2 linked regions of the Homo sapiens genome follow. The protein of the gene in region 1 interacts with the protein of each later gene in a pairwise test. Each region holds a gene or a part of one and is shown in the gene's direction. Other genes may lie near its edges. The genes, in order: CCNB1IP1 and OLFM4.

Region 1 (3,038 bases):
TTTATTTACCCCTTCTTAGGCCTCTCTTCAGCTTCTGGAGACCTCACTATCCTATTATGTCTTTGTGTGAAGACATGCTGCTTTGTAATTATCGAAAGTGTCGCATCAAACTCTCTGGCTATGCATGGGTCACTGCCTGCTCTCACATCTTCTGTGATCAGCATGGCAGTGGTGAGTTTAGTCGCTCACCAGCTATCTGTCCTGCCTGCAACAGTACCCTTTCTGGAAAGCTAGATATTGTCCGCACAGAACTCAGTCCATCAGAGGAATATAAAGCTATGGTATTGGCAGGACTGCGACCAGAGATCGTGTTGGACATTAGCTCCCGAGCGCTGGCCTTCTGGACATATCAGGTTAGTGCTTAGTCTAGTTTCTCTTGAGCATGTGATTTATGGCATTTGTGGGAACTTCTAGTGTCTTTCCTTCATTGTATTATTATTAATTTTTTATGAGTATATGAGAAACTCTTTTTATTAAATTGTTTTCAAAAGCAATACTGTTTATTGTTGAAAATCAAAAGGAAGAAAATTAAAGCACTCATAATTCCATCACTCAGAGATAACCATTGTTTATATTTTGGGTATACACACACACACACTCACACACTCTCTCTCTCTTCTGTATAAAAGTAAGATAACACACACACTTTTATTGTTAAGAGTTGACAGTATATTATATCTGGTATGAATTTTTCTTCCTTTTGAGACGGGGTTTTCTTGTGTTGCCCAGGCTAGTCTCTAACTCCTGGGTTCAAGCCATTCTCCCGCCTCAGCCTCCTGAGTAGCCTGTGCTTCACTTGGTATGAATATCTTGTTAAATATTTTTTAGTTAACTATTCTATAATCATATTTTAATGGTTATATTGTATCATAATTTATTTCCAAGTTATTAAAATGCTATGATAAGCATTCTTATCAAATACGCATCCTTAACTTTTTCCCTTTATGATTTCTACTTTTAGTATTTCCTTTGAAAGACCTCCCTGTGGATGACTTTAAGCATGTCCTTGAATGTATTGTTATATCTTACATATACACTTATACTTCTTAAGGATGTTTGTCATCTGTCAAGTAACTTTTTATTATATTTTTCTGGGTAAGTTGTTTCTCTTACATGCTCCTCTATTTTTCAACTCCTTTGGTTAAATACCAAATAGTGTTTTTGCTGGCTTATGTGGTGAGAGTATGTTTATTTTTGTAAGCAACTGCCAAATTGTCTTCCAAAGTGGCTATACCATTTTATATTGCCAGCAGCAATGAATGAGAATTCCTGTTGCTCCACATCTTTGCCAGAAGTTGGTATTGTCCATGTTCTGGGTCTTGGCCATTTTAATAGGTGTATAGTGGTGTCTCATTTTAATTTGCATGTCTCTGATGACATATGATGTGGAGCATCTTTTCATATGCTTTTTTGCCTTTTTTTTTTTTTTTTTTTTTTTTTTTTGGTGAGGTGTATATGAAGTTCTTGGTCTTTTTTTTTTTTTTTTTTTGAGACGGAGTCTCGCTTTGTTGTCCAGGCTGGAGTGCAGTGGCGCGATCTCAGCTCACTGCAAGCTCTGCCTCCCGGGTTCACGCCATTCTCCTGCCTCAGCCTCCCGAGTAGCTGGGACTACAGGCGCCCGCCACCACGCCCGGCTAATTTTTTGTATTTTTAGTAGAGGCGGGGTTTCACCGTGTTAGCCAGGATGGTCTCGATCTCCTGACCTCATGATCCGCCCACCTCTGCCTCCCAAAGTGCTGGGATTACAGGCATGAGCCACCGCGCCCGGCCGAGTTCTTGGTCTATTTTTAAATTGTTTTCTTATTGTTGAGTTTTAAGTGTTCTTTTTATCCTTACTGTTGAGTTTGAAGTATTCTTTGATCCTTTATCAGAGCTATCTTTTGCAAATATACTCTCCTGATCTGTGGCTTGTCTTTTTATTCTCTTACAGGGTCTTTCACAGAGCAGAGATTTTTAAGTTTAATGAAGTCCTGCTTATCAATTTTCTCTTTCACGGATTATACCTTTGGTGTATTTTAAAAGTCACTGCCAAATCCAAGATCCACCTGGATTTTACCCTATGTTATCTTCTGGGAGTTTCATAGTTTTGCATTTTATGTTTAAGTCTGTGAACCATTTTGAGTTTATTTTTGTGAAAAGTATAAGATCTGTCTAGATTCATTGGGTCCTCAATTTTTTGCTGGCTATTGGCCAGAGGCTGTTCTTAGTTACTTGTCTCTTGGGCCTTCCTGACATGACTGCTTGCTTCCTCAAAGCCAGCAAGGGAGTGTGTCTCCTAGTAAGACAGACCTTATAGTCTTAGGTAATATACTTATGAAGTGACAACCTGTCACATTTTCTGTAGTATTCTAGTCACAGGTCCTGCCCACGTGCAAGGGGATAGGGAGTTACACAAGGGTGTATGTACCAGGAGACGATAATTTGTGGTTGTCTTAGAGTCTATTCTTCATGCTCTGGATTACTTGAAAAATGGGATTATATTTCTTAAAAACCTTTGGAAAACATGTCACTTGTTAAGACAAATACTCAGTTCTTTTGGTGGTATAAAGTTAGTGGTTTGAGAGTATTCTTCCAGACTTTTTTTCTATGCATTTAGTAACATAACTTATTGTTTTCTGTGCCTCATTGTGTATCCTGATTGCTTCTTAAACTGGGTTCTAAATGATAAAATAACATCCCTATATAAGCATCTTTCTTTTCCTTTTGTGTTTGTATAACATTTTACAATATATAACTTTGTACCCAATACCTTAAAAATCTTTTTTCTTTTGGAACCAGGTACATCAGGAACGTCTCTATCAAGAATACAATTTCAGCAAGGCTGAGGGCCATCTGAAACAGATGGAGAAGATATATACTCAGCAAATACAAAGCAAGGATGTAGAATTGACCTCTATGAAAGGGGAGGTTACCTCCATGAAGAAAGTACTAGAAGAATACAAGAAAAAGTTCAGTGACATCTCTGAGAAACTTATGGAGCGCAATCGTCAGTATCAAAAGCTCCAAGGCCTCTATGATAGCCTTAGGCTACGAAACAT
Region 2 (3,833 bases), on another chromosome or scaffold:
TAGAAAAGGTACAGTAAAAATATGATATTTATAATCTCATGGGACCACTGTCATATATGCAGTCTGTCATAGACAAAAATGTTATGCAGCAAATGACTGTATTTTCCAGAAGAAGAAAAAAATGCAGAAAGTGCCCCAAGTGCCAGATGTGGGACTGGAGGCTCCCAGGCAGGCTGGGCTGCCTCTCCCAAGACTGCACCTCCCAGGAGGAGCTGACATGTGGTCAGCATTGTCCACGCATTCCCAAAGCTACAGATTCATATATGTGAAAAGTTCATATGAATGATTTACTTAAATTAGTAAAGTTCACACTCTGAAGTCTTTCTGGCCCATCCCCAAGCTCTTTTGTGTCTTCTCTAACTCCATGGATGATTGCCATTTTCCTGAACACCACTGAGCATCCTTTAAGTGTCAGCTGAAGAACCTTGAGTTTTTTCCTCAAATGGATCTTTACAGACCCTTCATTTTGTCTGCACCAGGGCAGGCACACCACACATTTTTATAGGTAACAAACTCCAGAATATGCCTTGCTTTTTTTTGTGAAAATCTAGGAGAACCACATTTTATTTAGCAGAGATGACAGTTGAATCACTCATTTTTGTAGAACAACAGCTGCGATGTGCCACCAAAATGTTCCAGAGAAGCTGAGGGTGTTTCATTTGTTCCAAGAGCTGGCAAGGCCAAATGCCAACAAGCATATTTATTTCTCAAACTTCCATTTCTGTAATGGATTGGCACTTTATTTATTTTTATCATAGTCAAGGTTTTATGCCTGAGTTTTGTAGACACTGGAACCTGGCAGCCCTATATCTGCAGTGCACTTCTCAGGGGGACTTGTTAGGTTTTATATATAGTGAGCCCTCCATAGCCTTGGTTCCGCATCTGCAGATATAACCAAACTCAGATTGAAAAATTTCACGGAAAAAAACTAATAAAAATAACCATGTAACAACAGGAACTATACAAATAAAAAACAATACAACAATGATTTATATAGCATTTACATTGTTTTAGGTATTATAAGTAATCTAGACTTGATTTAAAGTATTTGGGAGGATGTGTGTAGATTGTAGGCAAATACTGTACCATTTTCTGTCAGAGTCTTAAGCATCCTTGAATTTTGTTATTCTTGGGAGGTTCTGAAACCAATCCACCATGGATACTAAGAGGTGGCCGTATATATGTTTTAACCTCCCTATCCACCAAAATATCACCAGCTTTGTCATCCTCCGAGTTATGGTACATCCAATGGCAGTGAGCATCAGTTGCCCGAGGAGATACACTAGCAGTGCCAAGGACTGTTTTTTCGACTTTCATTAAAATCCTTTTTGCCTGAAGCCCTAGCCCTTCAGGTCTGTGGTCTATGAGTCTACTTTAATTTGCACAATGGGGTTAAGTGGAAGGGCTGAAATGACAGAAGTTAGGATTGCTTTTGGTATAAGAAGGATTAAAGGCCAACATCTGGCTCTAAATTCATCCAGGCACTGTGGATCAGCTACTTGATATTAGTGTAGTTTTGGGAAAAGTATCACTTCAGTTCAAATTTTTAAAAAGCATATAAAGCCAGCAACTTATTTAATGAGCAGGTCCTTAAAAAAGCCATGGCATTTTCTTTAGAGATCAGACACAGAAAGAACCACCAACTGTGTTTATTAAAATATCCACTTGGATATTCCAATTATACACTAAACTGCCAAGGGAATTTTTGGAAGTATTTTAACTTAATGATCAGACATTCAAATATATGCAACAAATCTGTAATTTAAAGGTCTGATTGCAATAATCAGTTCTTGGAATAAATGTGGGTGCACTTAATGAAATGTGTACTCTACAGGGCACACACACTCACATATTGTGTAGTAGGTTGGATCTCTATGCCACTTTGTAAAAGGCAGAGGGGATCAAAACTAATTGTATATGGCGATCAAAGAAGGAATTCGGCATAGCGCATTTCTCCCTTCTCCAGAAAATACTTAGATGTAGAGCCATGTTTCTAAATGGAAGGAGGGTGGTGTTGGCCGTGGCAACGATTTTGTCCCCAGGGAACATTTAGCAATGCCCAGAGACATTTTTGGTTATCATAACTGGAGAGTGGTTGGATGCAACTGGCATGAAGAAGCCAGGGATGCTGCTTAATATTGTGTAATTCACAGCACAACCCCCACAAGAAATGACAATCCAGTCCCAAATGCTAACAGTGCTGAGGTTGAGAAACAATTAGAGTAAGTGTGTTGAAGGGAGGAGAGATGGCAAGAGACTATGATACAAACCAGTTTAGTTTGGGGAGTTAATGTCTTCAAACATTAAAATGGAGATTAAGAAAAAAGGGCTCAATATCACTTGATCATTAGAGAAATGCAAATCAAAGCCATAGTAAGATACCATCTCATACCAGTCCAGAATGGCTATCATTAAAAAGTAAAAAAATAACAGATGCTGGTGAGATGGCAGAGGAAAGGGAACATTTATACACTGTTGGTGGGAGTGTAAATTAGTTCAGCCATTGTGGAAAGCAGTGTGGTGACTCGAAGAACTAAAAAGAACTATTATTCAACCTAGCAATCCCTTTACTGGGTATATGCCCAAAGGAATATAAATTGTTCTACCATAAAGATACATGGGCGTGTGTGTACATTGCAGTACTATTCACAATAGCAAAGACATGAAATCAACCTAAATGCTCATCAATGGTACACTGGATAAAGAAAATATGGGCCATATACACCATGGAATACTTTGCAACCATAAGAAAGAATGAGATCATGTTCTTTGTAGGAACATGGATAGAGAGCTGGAAGCCATTCTCCGAAGCAAATTAACACAAGAACAGAAAACCAAATACCACATGTTCTCACATATAAATGAGAGCTAAATGATGAGAACACATGGACACAAAGAGGAGAACAACAGAAGCGTACTTGAGGGTGGAGGGTGAAAGGAGGGAGAGGAACAACAACAAAAAAATCTATTGGGTGCTAGGTTTAGTACCTGCGAGACAAAATAACCTTTACAACAAACCCCCATGACATGAGTTTACCTATATAACAAACCTGGGTATATACCCCTGAGCCTAAAACCTTTTTAAAAAATGGAGATTAAAATATACCTGCAAATGATGATGCTGAAGCAAAATTATGTTTAGCCTAGCAAAGTATAAAATCTACCTCCCTTCAATTGGAGTAATAAGTTCTTTGTATATGGATAGATTTTAAAAATCTAGTTAAATGTATTTTTGATCTATTTATTTACAAAACACAATGATTGGCAAGAATCAAATAGTTCTCAACTCAAGGGCTCGGTAGTGGAAGAAGATGGTGTGATACTACTCAGGGAATTGGCTTGAACCTTTTGATTTTCTTTCAGGTGAGGGAATATGTCCAATTAATTAGTGTGTATGAAAAGAAACTGTTAAACCTAACTGTCCGAATTGACATCATGGAGAAGGATACCATTTCTTACACTGAACTGGACTTCGAGCTGATCAAGGTAGAAGTGAAGGAGATGGAAAAACTGGTCATACAGCTGAAGGAGAGTTTTGGTGGAAGCTCAGAAATTGTTGACCAGCTGGAGGTGGAGGTAAGGAGTGAACTCACTTCTTGGTAAATTAATAATAAACTCCCTTCAGTGACTGTAAGCAAGTACTAGTACCAGGAAGTGAAACTATCTCTTCCAACTTCTAATTCTCTACTGTCTCATGGCCACATGGCATATCACTATGTTCTGTTTTGGATAAGGGCATGTGTTTGAATAGTAAGTTAAGCACATTGGGAATGTGCTGACTTAGGAGCAGATGTTGTCTAATGGTCAGAATCCTGCCCCAGAATAAAATGCCC

What was found.
Region 2: the proteins of CCNB1IP1 (region 1) and OLFM4 interact in a two-hybrid assay, tested with the Homo sapiens proteins (one large-scale study listed by BioGRID).

What each region holds. Positions count from the first base shown.
Region 1 is NC_000014.9:20,313,542-20,316,579, reverse strand, and holds part of CCNB1IP1 (E3 ubiquitin-protein ligase CCNB1IP1), read left to right. Parts: intron 1-19; 5' UTR 20-56; coding exon 57-353; intron 354-2,778; coding exon 2,779-3,038. UniProt on the Homo sapiens protein: Ubiquitin E3 ligase that acts as a limiting factor for crossing-over during meiosis: required during zygonema to limit the colocalization of RNF212 with MutS-gamma-associated recombination sites and thereby establish early differentiation of crossover and non-crossover sites.
Region 2 is NC_000013.11:53,038,547-53,042,379, forward strand, and holds part of OLFM4 (olfactomedin-4 precursor), read left to right. Parts: intron 1-3,363; coding exon 3,364-3,576; intron 3,577-3,833. UniProt on the Homo sapiens protein: May promote proliferation of pancreatic cancer cells by favoring the transition from the S to G2/M phase. In myeloid leukemic cell lines, inhibits cell growth and induces cell differentiation and apoptosis.